Linked DNA regions of Homo sapiens: region 1 is linked to region 2. A link means that fine-mapping ties the variant in region 2 to the expression of a gene that starts in the linked region. Tissue or cell type: visceral fat. Region 2 holds a variant in brackets; the other region holds the start of a gene. All regions are shown on one strand. Distances are between the middles of the regions.

Region 1 (8,108 bases), 290 kb after region 2:
AGAGATCGAGACCATCCTGGCCAACATGGTGAAACCCCGTCGTACTAAAAATACAAAACTTAGCTGAGTGTGCTAGCGCACACCTGTAGTCCCAGCTACTCCGGAGGCTGAGGCAGGAGAATCACTTGAACTCGGGAGGAGGAAATTGCAGTGAGCCAAGATCGCGCCACTGCACTCCAGCCTGGTGACAGAGTGAGATTCTGTCTCAAGAAAAAGAAAAACAAAAAAGAAAGGGGAAGAGTTCTAGAGAACAGATTTCAAAAACTTGTTTTCTATTATATTTATAGCAGTATTCACATTGGAAGACCAGTGCAGTGACACACTTTCGTTATCCCAGCTACTCAGGTGGCTGAGGCAGGAGGATCACATAAGCCCAAGAGTTCAAGACCAGCCTGAGCCAAATAGTGAGAACCTGTCTCTAAAAATGAAATATAATCAAAAATTGAGATGACCCGATCTCCTCCCTTTCCAAAAAGTTGTTTTCTTGCTATTTCTCCAGAGTTGGTCAGGTTTTAAAAATTAATAATCTGGGGCAGTAGATGAAATTTCTGAAAATTATGTGCAGGTTTCCTTTTTTATTTTTGGATGGGCCCTAGGTATTAGAGGTGCTCTTTTTAAGTATCTACACAGCCTGCTAAATAAACACATTCAATTGGAAAGCAATGCTTTCCATTTCTTATTCTGTATCAAATATTTTACTTTCGGATTAACTTTCATTCTTATAGGGAAAAATAAATATTTCCAGTTTGAAATTCGTAAGATGGCATTGATAATAAGTAAATCTCTATAGATTTATGTGAAGTACAGTTACAGTAAGTCACCCATTTACAAATGGATTATATTTGAAAGTTTCATTTGAAGTAGGTTTGTTTTTTGGGGTTGGGATGCTTTTTCCTTGGAAAAAATACTTAATTAAACTTTTTTTTTTTTTGAGACAGAGTTTCACCCTTGTCACCCAGGCTGGAGTGCAATGGCATGATCTCAGCTCACTGCAACCTCCGCCTCCCGGGTTCAAGCAATTCTCCTGCCTCAGCCTCCCGAGAAGCTGGGATTACAGGCACATGCCAGCCACCATGCCTGGCTAATTTTTGTATTTTTAGTAGAGACAGGGTTTCACCACGTTGGCTAGGATGTTCTCAATCTCCTGACCTCAGGTAATCCATCCGCCACAGCCTCCCAAAGTTCTGGGATTACAGGTGTGAGCCACCCCGCCCTGCTTAAACTTTTAATTTTGAGATAATTATAGATTCAGATGTAGTTGTAAGAAATAGTACAAAGTGATCATGAGGGCTTTTTACCCAGTTTCTCCAGTGATAACATCTTGCAAAGCTATACAATAGTATCACAACCAGGATATTGACACTGATGTGGTCAATCCAATAGAAGAGTTCCAGAACAGGGGTCTCTCATGTGGCCCTGTTAAACCACCTCATCCCCATCCCTAACCTCTAACAACTCCCATCTCTTCTCCATTTCTATAATGTTGTCATCTGGGAAATGCTATGTAAGTGTACTCGTATAGTATCTAACATTTTGGGATTGGCTTTCTGTCACTCAGCATAATTTAATTCCCTGGATTCTTATCCAGGTCGTGGAACGTACTAATAATTTGTTCCTTTTTATTGTTGAGTAGTATTCCATGGTATGGATGTACCACAATGAGGATTGGGTAGAAGCTCATTGCTTTTGCCTAGGGGTGTCTAATTGCTCTAGCACTGTTTGTTGAATGGCACAGAAATCAGTTTGGCATATTCATGTGGGCCTGTCTCTGGGTTCTCCAGTCTGTTCCACTGATCTATGTTATGTGTCTCTCTTTTTGCCAATGCTGTGTTGTCTTGATTACTGTAGTTATCCAGTAGGCCTTAATATGGGATAGATTCATTGCTCTAACTTTTTTCTTCTTTTGAGACGGAGTCTCACTCTGTGGCCCAGGCTGGAGTGCAGTGGCATGATCTTGGCTCACTGCAACCTCTGCCTCCCAGGATTGGGTTCAAGCGATGCTCCTGCCTTAGCCTCCCTAGTAACTGGGATTACAGGTGTGCACCACCACGCCTGGCTAATTTTTCTGTATTTTTGATAGAGACAGTGTTTCACCATGTTCATTAGGCTGGTCTCGAACTCCTGACCTCAGGTGATCCACCCGCCTCGGCCTACCAAAGTGCTGGGATTACAGGCATGAGCCACCACGCCCAGACTAACTTTTTTCTTCTTTTTCAAGATGGTTTTTAGCTATTCTAGGGCCTGTACCTTTACTATAAATTTTAGAATATCTGCCAAAAATCACTGTGAGGCCAGGCAGGGTGGCTCACACCTGTAATCCTAGCACTTAAGAAGGCCGAAGTGGGAGGACAGCTGGAGCCCAGGAGTTCAAGACAAGCCTGGCCAACCTAATGAGACTCCATCTCTACAAAAACTAAGAAATTAAAAAATTAGCCCAGTGTGGTGGTGCACATCTGTAGCCCCAGATATTCAGGAGGCTGAGGCAGGAGGACTGCCTCCTGGGGAGGTTGAGGCTGCAGTGAGCCATGATTGCACACCTCTACTCCAGCCTGGACAACAGAGCAAGACCATGTCTCAAAAAAACAAAACAAAACAAAACAAAACAAAAAAACCTTGCAAGATTTTGATAGGAATTTTGTTAATCTGTAGATCAGTTTGGGGACAATTGACATCTTTTGTGTGTTGATTTTTCTTCCAATTCATGATTATCATCATTGGAAAGAAGTGAGTATGATGAGTCTTCTAAGCCAGGCAGATAGCAAAAAAATTAGGAAAGTAAATGGATTGCACAGGAAGAATTAACTGGGATTTAAATAATCAAAGACAGAAAGGATATATAAAAGAAGTGACGAAGGAGATTTACCCTATTAGACTCCAGTGTATTAATCTAGGACAGTTTGGTTGCTATGGGGAAGCAGTGTGCAAAAACTTAAGAGGCACACAAAAGACTGATGTTTATTTTGTGGGAGTGAATCTTTTTTTAGGAAGGAAATAGCACTATTGTGGTAACAGTGATTCATTTTCTCCTCCTATCTTCTCTTTACAGAGAAGACCCAAATAGTGAACTGTTTCATGTAAGTTTTTATTTATTTTTGCCCTACTTTTCTCTAGGGAGGGGCTTACCACAGCTTATAAAAATACGTAAAACAAGATCAAATAAACTTTAAAATGAGGAAAAAGCCAATATGGTCCAAGGGAAAAGAAGATCAGGGTCAGGACTGAGATTAGGATGCAAAAGCCATGCTATGAAATTTTGTTTGTTTGTTATCTTGAGATGGGTAAAAAAAAAAAAAAACAGTTGACTGGGACAAATACCCCTAGCACAAAACAGTCATGAAGCCAATGTTTAATTATTATACCTGTCATCTTTTCACCTGGCCTCAGGACTGTCCTCTTAGGGAGAGGCATTGTTCTGTAGGGTTAATTAGTAACAGGAATTTAGATCCTGCTTTGAGAGGCCTCCTGTGCTGGCCGAAGCAGCTGGTGGTCTGAGAACCCTGACACCCAGAGGCATACCACTGGGAGGCCCCGCGCAGCACACAGCTTTTGCTGTACTCCAGCCCAAGTCTTATGGGGTTTGTGGTTTATACTGAAGTTGGTGCAGACAATTAAGACTCTCTGTTCTTGGTACCGACAGGGACAGAGACCTACAATTGTAAGTATTTTGTAAACAGGGTTGTGATATTTGTTTGAGTGTATTCAACATGTCAGTGGCCTTTTAATGTTTAAAAAAATGCATATGGCCATTTAAGAAGTGGTTGTGCTTCATAGTTAATATTTTTTTCATTAGGTTAGGTTCATCTGGTTTTTCAGTGAGGTGAGCTACCTGAGAGCCATAGGAAGATAGATCTTGCCAGTTCAGAGGACTGACTTTGGCTTTAAGAGAAAATATTTGTGTCATTTTCGAGAAAGTACTTCCAGCACAATGCTTTCTTCTGATGATTCATTTTCTACAGTTATTGGAAGTGGGAAGAAATCCACAGAGGTTACAGAATTTGTAAACTTGTAGAGACATGTGCCATTATATCATGCTGTTTCATAGATGTGTATGTCTGTTAGTTACTTTTCGGGCATTCATTGTATATATGTCTGTTACTTACTTTTGGGGTGTTCAGTGTCTGAGCTTTGTCAACGATTGTGTGCTCTTTTTTTAGCCTAAAAAAACTAAGTTAGAGAAATGTTTGCTCATCCAAATCTGTATTGTTGTAGCTTATTCAGTAGACTGCTGTTGTATTTTTAATTTCTCTATACAACAAGCTGAAAGACAGTGTGGACAACCTAATTGCATTTGAAGTAGCTGCTGGCCAGGCCTGCTGCAACAGCTGATGGGCTCCTCTGAATTTCCAGGGCTATTTCTGGTAGATGAGCTGGTATCAAGGCTCTCGAGTTCAGGCCATAAAAGGCCCGTCCCATGTGAAGTTGCTTCACTGCTCTGACTGCGTCCTCCCCAGGCTGAAGTGTCCTCAGGTTTCATGTGGATTTGCCCAGTAATGGATGGCTCCACCGAGGCCAGGTTGGGGAAGTTCAGCCTCGAGGACACTAGGGGACGAAAAACTTCAAAAAGAAGACTCTTTTTATTAATATTTTGGCGTTCTTTTTGGAGAGGAACTTTTGGGATGTAGCCTTTACCTGTTTCCTGAATTTGACATCCAAAAAGCCTTTTGGAAAACACCATTCTAAATTTATCCTGTTCTGAATCATCATCGCTTCTGATAGATGCAGTTGCTTGCTGACATCGTGATCTTTGATTTTGTACAACGCTATTTGGGCTAACTTTTGGGATTTTACTTTGTGCTTAGAATTTGAAAGTAGTATTCATTGGAAAGAGACTCCAAGAAAATACTCGAAGACATCAAAAGCTGGATTCGAGGGTATAACGTGTTTTGTTTTGTTTTTTAAATTAGAAAAATAAGGAATTGCAGTGTGATTTTCTTTCCCCCTTTAACTTAGAGGAACGAGGATTATACAGAAATTTGAAGTAAGTGAAAAATCTTCCTATAAATCTAAATGCAGTAGGTTTTTTTTTGTTGTTTTTGTTTTTGCTTTTTTTTAAGTGCCATCTGTCTGAGCATGTTTCCTGAGGATTTGTTGACTTCAGTCATTGGAAAATTCCTGCCAGCGTTTGCCAGTTACTGCAGCCATTCCTGTAGATACCCTTGGGCATATTTCTTGGGTTGAGAAGGATTGGACTTTTTTTTTTTTTTAAAGGATTTACTTTATGGTAGAGAAAGGTTTAATACTAAAAATTTGATTAATATAACTTAGTACATTCTGTCTAAATGTTAGCACTTAAAGTCTTGGAATTAAAGTATATTCACAATGCAACGTACTTTAATAATCGTAGCACAAGTATGGGGGTGGAGTTCAGAAGGGCAAGTTTTATTTCACTGCCATTATAATTCATGTAAAAATAGAAAATCACCAGTGATCCTTTTGCATAATCTTTGTTCTGAGGGTTCTTTGCCTTGGTACTCTCATTCTTCAGGGCTTGATTTCTAGAACTTGCGATGTTCCAGAATTTATGAGAAAAACCTCACTGTAGGTTCTAGAGTTTGAACTGCATTTTATTTTTAAATTCTCCAAGAAAAAATACTGCATCAGCCTTTTAAAGCCCTGGAGATTGCTATGGTCTCTTTGTAATTTAGCTCAGTGATTTGTTTCTGCTGAAAAACAGCAGTGAACTCTAGAACATAGAAGGCTTATTTGACGTGTTGCTTCTTTGAAAAAAAAAAAAGATTATTTCTTTATACCACATCAGATGGACAAGTACGGGCAGTCATTATTTTTACCAGGTAGGAAAACAGAGTATTTATAGAGAAGAACTTCATCGGTGAATACTGCGAGGGTTCTTCACCGGAGATAGTGTGGCAACCCTAGGGGGCGTTTGAAAATGCATGGGGGTGTTTCAGGTTTTCTCAATGACTCACTGGCATTTGGGAGGATGTGGTTAAGAATTGTAAATGCCCAATTTACATGGTGTAGGGGACAGTCCCATACAGCATTACCCTGGCCAAACTGCTGGTGGTATCCCCTGTTGAGTAAAACTGCAGGATATAAATTGTACCCTCTGTCTCCAAAGAAGAGCAGCCCAGTGCCAGGCAGATGTGTGCTGTCTCTTCTCACCAAAACCAGTGATGTCTTTTTTTTTTTTTTTTTTTTTTGAGATGGAGTCTCGTGCTGTCACCCAGGCTGGAGTGCAGTGGCACGATCTCGGCTCACTGCAACCTCCACCTCCCAGGTTCAAGTGACTCTCCTTGCCTCAACCTCCCAAGTAACTGGGATTACAGGCACCTGGCACCATATCCAGCTAATTTTTTTTTGTATTTTTAGTAGAGACGGGGTTTCACTATGTTGGCCAGGCTGATCTTGAACTCCTGACCTCGTGATCCGCCCACCTTGGGCTCCCAAAGTGCTGGGATTATAGGCGTGAGCCCCTGCACCCGGCACCCGGTGATGTCTTGAGGATCCAGGGCATCAAGTGTGCACTAGTGTCAGAGAATTTGTCTTACAATGGAAACTTTGGAGTCTATACTCTGTGTGTGTGTGTGTGTGTGTGTTAAAGATAATTTATTTGGTCACCTTGATCACTGGATGAGGCTGATGTTATACAAGCTATTGTAGTACATTAGGTGCCTTCCTGCCTACCTTTATTTAGTACTATTGGTGCATTTAATTTTGCCACATGCATAGTCTTCCAAGTGAAATTTGGTTAATGCGCTCAGCTTGCAGTGGACATCAGTCAGCCATTCAACAAACAGTTCTTTATCTTTGCTTCTACTTTGGAGACAGACTGTTTTGTGATAAACAGACTTCTGGAAGACTTTGGAGTTCAATTCAGAGTGAACATCTTTGGCAACACCTGGGGTTATATAGTATTCTTTTTTTCTTTTTTCTTTTTTTTTTTTTTGAGATGGAGTCTTGCTCTGTTGCCCAGGCTGGAGTGCAATGACACAATCTCAGCTCACTGCAACCTCCACCTCTTGGGCTGAAGTGATTCTCCTGCCTCAGCCTCCCTACTAGCTGGGATTACAGGCATATGCCACTGCGCCCAGCTAATTTTTGTATTTTTAGTAGAGACAGGGTTTCATCATGTTGCCCAGGTTGGTCTTGAACTCCTGACCTCAGGTGATCTACCAGCGCTCGGCCTCCCAAAGTTCTGGGATTACAGGCATGAGCCACCACACCCGGCGAGTTATTTAATATTCTACAGTTGAGGAATTGCATCCAAAGGAAAGGGCCCTTGGGATTTTTATAAGGATGTCTGGTGAGCTCCAGCATGCAGGGCTCTCGGGCTACATGGAGCGTTATGGAGAGTAAGCTGCTAGGAGCCTTGTGATTGTTAGGGTACAAAGGCAGCCTTGGAATCATCTCCTGAATCTGCAGCTGCCTGGGATTTTAGGACACTCATTGCAATTTTATGTTAAAGCGCTGATCTCAGGGTGCCTTGCTGTGACTGGGAGTATCCGTAGGTCTAGAACTTTCCAGCAGTTCTGGGCTTCATTGATTTGTGACTCAACTAGGAATCTTCTGGTCACCCTTGACTCCTCTCCCTTTAGGTCCCCGAGGCCTCTGCCCCACCACCTCCTCTTAAGCCTCGCCATCTTTTTTATTTTTTATTTTTTTGAGATGGAGTCTCACTCTGTCAGCCAAGCTGGAGTGCAATGGCACAATCTCGGCTCACTGCAATCCCTGCCTCCCGGGTTCAAGGGATTCTCCTGCCACAGCCTCCTGAGTAGCTGGGATTACAGGTGTCCGCCACCACGCCCGGCTAATTCTTGTATATTTAGTAAAGATGGGGTTTCACCATGTTGGTCAGGCTGGTCTCGAAATCCTGACCTCATGATCTGCCCACCTCGGCCTCCCAAAGTGCTGGGATTACAGGTGTCCGCCACCACGCCCGGCTAATTCTTGTATATTTAGTAAAGATGGGGTTTCACCATGTTGGTCAGGCTGGTCTCGAAATCCTGACCTCATGATCTGCCCACCTCGGCCTCCCAAAGTGCTGGGATTACAGGCATGAGCCACCGCGCCTGGCCTCGCCTCGCCATCTCTTACCTGGGCTACTGCTTTGCCCTTAATGGATCCCTTGGCCCTCGGTTTCTCCTCCG
Region 2 (8,108 bases):
GACTTAAGTCAGTGGTTTGCCAGGGGCTCTCGGGCCTTCGGCCATAGACTGAAGGCTGCACTGTTGGCTTCCCTACTTTTGTGGTCTTGGGACTTGGACTGGCTTCCTTGCTCCTCAGATTGCAGACAGCCTATTGTGGAACTTCACTTTGTGATAGTGTGAGTCAATACTCCTTAATAAACTCCCCTTCACAGATACATCTATCCTATTAGTTCTGTCCCTCTAGAGATCCATGACTAATACACTACCCAATGTAATAAAGATTTCTCCCTCCAGGGCCAAGGTCAGGCAGGTTTGCTTGCATCCCATTATAAAAGATTGGCCTTGCCTAAGCACAGGTTCCCTCATCCATGATGCCACCCACTGTATGTGTGCCATCCATCTGGGCATCTCTGTTGTCCCTGTGAGACTTGAGGATCAAGAGAAAACCAAAAAACATGAAGCTCATGCTGCTTTCTGTGCTGTGAGTAGTAAAGTTCTTTGTCTCTGATCCAGGAGTCTTGTGTCTTCTGCCAGCATTTATGAAATTGTGGTGGGCTAGCTAGTTATCTTGTAGGTAAAGTAAAATCTCAGATCCTTCCTACCTCGGAGACTCTCATGGACCTATCATTCTAATGGGGGAAGAAAAAAACATGAAAACAAATAATGTAATTATAAATTGTCAAAGGTGCTGGAAACAATGATTAAATAGTGTGGAACAGGGCAGAGGGTAAAGACAAGATAATGAGGGAAGACCTCTCAGAAGTGGTACCATTTAAACCAAGGAGTAGCACTATTTAAAGTGTCTGAAAGAGGAGTTCAGTTTAACCAGGCACGTGAAGCTTGAAACCCAAAAACTCTGGGCAGAGGGAATAACACACACATCTGAGGCATAGACAAAGAACAGAGAAAGGTCAATGTAGGTCTAGAGGGATGTGAGGCCTGAGATGAGTGAAAGATTCTCCCCACGGCCTGAAAGCTTGAAGGGATGAGGAACTCCTCCCTTCTCAGGCCCAGTGCCAAAGAGCAAGGCTACTTGCACCAGCAGCATGCGCCAGCAAGAGAGCAGAAGCAGGAAGAAAGCCAGCCGGAAGACACCTACCCTGGCCGGAAGACACGTACCCCCGAAGATCGAGAAAGAGGCTGTCCGGGTAGTATGTAGCAGTCACGTCAGACTGAGACACTTCTTGTTTACAGGAGACCATAAAACCCCTGCCCCATCCTCATTTGGTGCTGAGGCCGTTTTAGGCCTCAGCCCGCCTGTACCCAGGCACTCATTAAAACAGCGTGTTGCTCCACAGGGCCTCGTGTTGTCTGTTGGCACGCTCTTGGGCTTGGAACCGATACAAGAACCTTACAATGAGGTGGAAGAGAGAAGCACGGCAGGATTGTGCACAAAGTCTTGTCTGTTGTGGAATGGAGTTTGGACCTTTCCCACCACTTTCAAGGAAGGGAATGAATTGACCTGGTTCACTTCCTAAGAAGGCTACTGTCTGTGTGGTGCTCCTAGAGGCATGGGAGAGGAGTGAAGACAGAGATGACCAAAGAAACACTTGGGGAAAGAATGGAAGCGGCATGTGTTAGCTTGGGAAAGGGAAACATACCAGCATCCGAGATCTGGCCATCAGGGAGAATAACAAACACTGACGGTAAGCCAGAAATACTGCGGGTTTTGGAGATGGATCTAATTCTTCAGAACATCTGTAGATGTTATAAGAATGATATTTCCCTAATGACTTATTTCAGTGATGCCATTATCTGCATTGATTTTCTTTCCCCCATCCCTCTCCCTCTCCCTCTCCCCCTCCCTCCCTGCCTCCCTCCCTTCCTTCCTTCCTTCCTTCCTTCCTTCCTTCCTTCCTTCCTTCCTTCCTTCCTTCCTTCCTTCCTTCCTTCCTTCTTTCTTCTTTTTCAGGGTCTCACTCTGTCATCCAGGATGGCTGAAGTGCAGTGGTGGGATCTTGGCTCACTGCAACCTCAGCTTCCCGGATTCAAACGATTTTCGTGCCTCAGCCTCCTGAGTAACTGGGATTACAGGCATACGCCACCACGCCCAGCTAATTTTTGTAGTTTTAGTAGAGATGGGGTTTTGCCATGTTGGCCAGGCTGGTCTCTAACTCCTGACCTCAAGTGATCTGCCCACCTTGGCTTCCCAAAGTGCTGGGAATACAGGTGCAAGCCACCGTGCCTGGCCATCTGCATTGATTTTCTATTGGCAATGCTTCCAAACACTTTCCCCTGATCATCCCTCTTTTCTATGTCAATTGCTAGTGACCTCTAAAGAAAAACTTTACTAGAGAAGTTGCTATTTAAAATAACTTACACAATGAAGAATTATCTTTATTTTGTTTGTTTTGTAAGTTGCAATAGTAGTGTTTTCAGGGTGAAAGCATGCTCATTAGTTAGGTGAAGACTAGGGGCAATAGTGATACATCCCAAACATGAGTCATGCATGTTGACAGGGCACTCGGCTCCACACGGGCATTCAGGGCAGGGTGGATGGAGGCTCTGCTCTTGCAGCTGCCCCATCTGGAACATGTGGTCTTTTTGGTTTTTAATTGCCTCAGTTAGAAGTGGCACATGTCACTTCCTCTCACCATCCACTAACCAAAATTAGTCCTATGGCCTCAACCTAATGGCAAGAAAGGCCAAGAAACCTAGAAAGTAAGTTCTCACTTATCAGTGGGAGCTAAACACTGGGTATGCATGGACATAAAGATGTCAACAAAAGAAACTGGGGACTATCAGATGGGGAAGACGGGGGAAGAAGGGAAGGAAGTTATGGCATGGAAGTTAGCTCATGTGAAGTGCTAAAGAGGGCAGTAATGCAGTGGAGGGAGACGAGGGTAGAGAAATGGACTTGCGGTTTGAGACAGGTGGCTGGGGAGGCCTTGCTGAGAAGGGGGCATTTCGATATGGCCTGAGGAAATGTGACAAGGCACCTGACAGAGATCTGAGGGAAGAGTTTTCCAGAAAGAGGGGACAGCAAAAGCAAAGGCCCTGAGATGGGTGCTTGCCTCACATTTGGGAACAGTAAGGAGATAGAGGGTCTAGGGCAGAGTGGACAATGGGATAACTGATGATGTTGTGGTCAGAGACACGAGGGGCGCAAGATTTTGCAGGCCATTGTGAGGACTTTGGCACTTAACCTAAGTGATATGGGGAACTCCATTAGAATTTGATCTTTGGGAATTAAAGACGTAGAAACTGGGAGAAAAAAGGATTCAAAAACGTAAGCATCAGTGGCAGCCTAAGGTTCTAGGACAGTTAAGGGAGCATTTGGGACTTTGTTCATAAGACAGTTTTGTGGTATTTCAGCATTTTTCCTTTCAGGAGATCATGCGGTGACCAGAACAATCACTGCATGTCAGTGCTTGCACAAACCAAAACAGCCCCCTGCTGGCTTTCAGCAGTGCGGCAG[G/A]CCAGGCATTTTCCTTAGATCCAATTGCAGCCTCGTGGGGTACCTCACTCACAGCAGGGTGGGAGGTAGACGGGTGTATCAGTCAGTGTTCTCCAGAGAAACAGAACTTGACATGGTTTGGGTATCTTTCCCCTCCAAATCTCATGTTGAAACGTGATCCCCGTTGTTGGAAATGGGGCCTCGTAGGAGGTGTTAGGGTCATGGGAGTGGGTCCCTCATAAATGGCTAGACGCCATCTCCATGGTAATGAGTGCATTCTCTCTCCGCCATCTCCATGGTAATGAGTGAGTTCTCTCTCCGTGAGTTCACAGGAGAGCTGTTTGTTTAAAGGAGGCTGGCACCTCCTCCCCTTTCTCTTGCTCCCTCTCTCACTATGTGATATGGTTTGGGTTTGGGTACCCACCCAAATCTCATGTTGAATTGTAATCCCCAGTGTTGTGGGAGGTGCCTGGTGGTAGGTGATTGGATCATGCTGCAGATTTCCCGCTTCCTGTTCTTGTGATAGCGAGTGAGTTCTCCCGAGATCTGATTGTTTAAAAGTGTGTAGCACTTCCCCCTTCACTCTCTTCCTCCTGCTCCTGCCATGTAAGACGTGCCTACTTCCCCTTTGCCTTCCACCATGATTGTAAGTTTCCGGAGGCCTCCCCAGCATCATGCTTCCTGTACATCCTGCACAGCCATGAGAAAATTAAACCTCTTTTCTTTAGAAATGACCCAGTCTCAGACATTTCTTTACAGCACTGTGAGAACGAACTAACACACCATGTCACACACCTGCTCCCCTCTGCCTTCTGCCATGAGTAAGAGCTCCCTGAGGGCTCATCAGAAGCCAAGCTGATGCTGGTGCCAGGCTCATACAGCCTGCAGAACTATGAGCCAAATAAGCCTCTTTATAAACTACCCAGTCTCAGGTATTCTTTTATAACAACACAAAACCAATGAGAGAAATATAGCTCCTTTTCCTGGTCCCCTGCTTGTAGACAGCAGGTCATGGGGTTTCTCAGCCTCTATAATCATGTGAGCCAGTACCTTATAATTAGCTTCTCTCTAAAGATTTGGACTCTGCAGGTTGGGAAGTCCCATGATCTACCTTCTGCAAGCTGGAGACCCAGGAGAGCCAGTGATTTAGTTGGGAGGCCTGAGAGCTACAGAGCCAATGGTGTGACTTCCCCAAGTCTGAAGATGTGAGCACCAGGAGCACCAAAGGCTGGAGAATCCATGTTCCAGCCCAAGCAGCCAGGCAGAGAGCAAATTCACCCTTCCTCCCGCTTTATGCTCCATTCAGACCCTCAGCAGATGGGGTGATGCCCACTCACCCTGGGGAGGGCCATCTGCTTTGTTCAGCTCACCAATCCAAATGCCCTTCTGGAAACACCCACGGAGACACATCTGGGAACAACATTTAACCAGCTACCCATGGCCCAGTCAGGTTAACACACAATGTTAACCATCATAGCAGGGTTCTGTTTCTTTCCATTTTATTTCTTCCCCAAGGGTAGTAACCCTGCAGAGTGAGTCCAGGTGAATGTCTGTGACACCCACTGGGCAGCCTCTCACAGTGCCTCTCACTACCTTCTGCCTCGATTTCCCATGAATGGCCCTGATATCCAGTCACCCCTACTGTACTGAGCAGATGAGGAAAAGCCCAGTGCCTGCCCCTCCTTAAGAGTCTTCCCAGGTAGTGATGGGGGTGCCCACATTGACGTGAGGCTGGTTGGGATATGTTTTCTCCCTCAAATGGGAGAGGTCAAAGGGTTGGAATAGCCTGGCTCTGCTCCTTCTTTTTCTTTACCTCTTTCTTTCTTTCTCTTTCTTTCTTTTCTTTCTTTCTCTTCTTTCTTTCTTTCTCTTTCTTTCTTCTTTTTCGTTTTCTTTTCTTTTCTTTTTTTTTTTTTTTTTAAGAGAGACAGGGTCTCACTCTGTCACCCAGGTTGGAGTGCAGTGGCAGGAGTTCATTGCAGCCTTAAACTCCTAAACTCAAACAATCCTCCTCCTTCAGTCTACTGAGTAGCTGGAACCACAGGCTCGCAGCACCTCACTTATCTAATTTTTTTTTTTTTTTTTTTTTGGTGGAGACAGCCTCTTGCTGTGTTGCCCATGCTGGTCCGGAACTCATGGCCTCAAGCAATCTTGCTGCCTCATCCTCCCTTCAAATTGCTAGGATTACAAGCATGAACCACCATGCCTGGCCTTTGTCCCTTCCTGCCCCTGCTCTGTCGACCTCCAGGAATGTTTCCTTATTGCCCACTCCCCCTTCCTCCCATCCCACTGCCTTTCAAGGATCTAGTGAAGGGTCTAAAGTATTTCTGGGTCCTGCCCAATGCTGGAGTTATTGGACCTCCTATCAGGTGTCTCCCACCACTCATCCATTTGGCCATGTGTAACTATGGGGGCTGTGACCATGATGCTGAGTGGCTCTGTCTTGACTTGCTGTTGCTTACATGTGCATGCACCCACATTTAAGCATTTACAGGTTGTGCTGTGTCCGTGTGTGAGCTCAGGAATACCTGTATACCTATTCAAGAGCATCTTCCAGAGGTGGCTACTTCATGCTCCTGTGTTTTTAACGATGGGATATTGACAACAAGGAACAAGAGATAAAGGCAGAGGTAGAGATGATAAAGACAGAGACAGAGAGAGACAGAGAGGCCTCCCCAGGCCTTCGGCTCTACTAAGACATTCTAACTTTTTGGTACATAGGCTGAAGTCGGGTGGAGTTGGGAAGAAGAAACAAGAAATAGGACAGGGAGAAATGTTGTTCCACTTTGCCATGATCTCACAGGATTTCCAACTTACCTGCTTCCTTTCCCTAATTATCAGGACCCTACAGCATGGCCAGGTTTTCTTTCATGGTCTTCCATTTGCCAAGTGAAAATGTTTTCAGCTGGGAGTCTATGCCACTCCTGCCACAGCTGGAAACCTCCCCAGGCCTTCAGAAAGTATTTATGGTTGAGCGCTGACTTTTCGTATTGTAGATGAAGATGTCAGCATCCCAGGCAGCTGTGCGTTAAGTTGGGACCAGCACAAATAGCTCTTAGCATTGTTCAACGACAGCACAGCCCCATGTGTCTTTTAAAAATAGCAATGCTGTATTTGAACTTTTAAAGAGAAGACATGTTGGGTGTGTGTTGGCCACGCCCTCAGCTATCTTCATTCTAAGGAGATACAAAATTAGAACATTTAGGAAGAGAAAAGGGAAGGAACAATCATTAACACGCTCCCCCACGCCCACACACCCTCTTCACCTCATTTCACAGTGAGGCCCTTCTTGTGCACATCCCTGAGAGACAATACTCAGAAGAACTTGTCCTCTCTAAGCCACCAGGATTAATCCATAGAGGATTTTGTCTGAAAATAAGTGAAGAGACCTAAAACTCAGCCTTATTAGTTGATATCAGTTAAAAAAAGAAAGTCTACTGGGTCAGAGTGAGAAAGAGGAAAACAGTGTGATGATTTTACTAATGTACCAGATATGATTTTCAAAGGAAAAATTTCTCCTATCCAAACTACTTCAATGCCACAAAGCCACCTTCTTGGACGAGAGCAGGAAGAAAGTGTGCTGGTTGCTGGCAGCGGGCATAAGACTCTCCCTAGCACTGTCCCAGCAGGCCCAAGTCCTGCCCATGACAGGGCCTCTGTGTAACTAGCACCTGAGGGTGTGTACTCAAGGTGAAAGCAGACCCCAGGCGTTCTGACCCTTGTGAGTGAATATAGTATTGCTTGGAGGTGGCAGCTGGGATAGTTGGAATTGTTATGAGAAATTCCAAGAGGGCCAGACGCTTCTGTGGGAATGCCTGCAAATTGAGATGTGAAAGAATGTTCCATCTAGGGAAAGAAAAAATGTTTAAAGAACACTGTTACTCCCAACCATCAACTTCAAGTTCCAAATGGGGAGAAATGCTGTATGCCTTGGAAAAATGAAGCTCAACTATAAACACCCTGTCTTCAGGGAGTGGTTGGCACTCACTCCTACAAGGACCCTGAGATTTTTTTTTTCTTTTTCCCCACAATAAGCCTTTTTATAAAATTCTTTTTAAATTTATATATATTTAGGGGTCTGAGGCCATTTTAACACATCAAACTTTAGTCTTCCTGCCACTCTGGGCATCATGACAGCTGCTTTGAGAAACAGGTCTCTCCCAATACTCTCCACTGCTCCAAAAGAAAGTTGCCCTCTGCTATAGATCCTTTGTGCAAACAGACATTTTGCAGGTACTAAGGGTCAGTTTCTGTATCTATTCTGCCACATTTTTGCCTATTTGATTCCTCTTACTCATGCTTCACTGCTTCCTGCTGCTTGCTCCTTTCTGCTTTCTACTGAAATTCTTGGGCATTTACCCTAACTCAGCAGTCCCCAACCTTTTTGGCACCAGGGACTGGTTTGGTGGAAGACAACTTTTCCACAGACCAGCGTTGGTTGGGGGGTGGTTTCAGGTGATTCAAGCACATTGCACTTATTGTGCATTTTCTTTTCTTTTTCCTTCCTTCCTTCCTTCCTTCCTTCCTTCCTTCCTTCCTTCCTTCCTTCCTTCCTTCCTTCCCTCCTTCCTTCCCTCCTTCCTTCCTTCCCTCCTTCCTTTCTTTCTTTTCTTTTCTTTCTTTCTTTTTTTTTTTTTGAGACAGAGTCTCACTCTGTTGCCCAGGCTGGAGTGCAGCGGCACAATCTCGATTTCAGCTCACTGCAATCTCCACCTCCCAGGTTCAAGCA

Which allele goes with the higher level. Positions count from the first base shown, and alleles are read on the strand shown. Sizes are in standard deviations (SD) of each study's normalised expression.
For the expression in visceral fat of the gene that starts at base 4,427 in region 1, A is the high allele of the variant in region 2 and G is the other (small effect, 0.21 SD a copy in GTEx).

Evidence for each region. PIP is the estimated chance that this variant, and not a neighbour inherited with it, causes the effect.
Region 1: SVIL starts here. The variant in region 2 is fine-mapped to the expression of SVIL in visceral fat (GTEx, PIP 0.97).

What each region holds. Positions count from the first base shown.
Region 1 is chr10:29,631,290-29,639,397 of GRCh38, reverse strand. It overlaps SVIL (supervillin), which reads left to right and starts at 4,427. Exons shown (of 38, transcript NM_021738.3): 1 at 4,427-4,978. RefSeq lists an enhancer at 1-376 and a silencer at 4,324-4,618.
Region 2 is chr10:29,922,086-29,930,193 of GRCh38, reverse strand. No RefSeq gene overlaps it. Among named protein-coding and RNA genes, the nearest start is that of JCAD, 130 kb to the left of the region's middle. The variant G/A (reference allele first, on the strand shown) is at 3,401.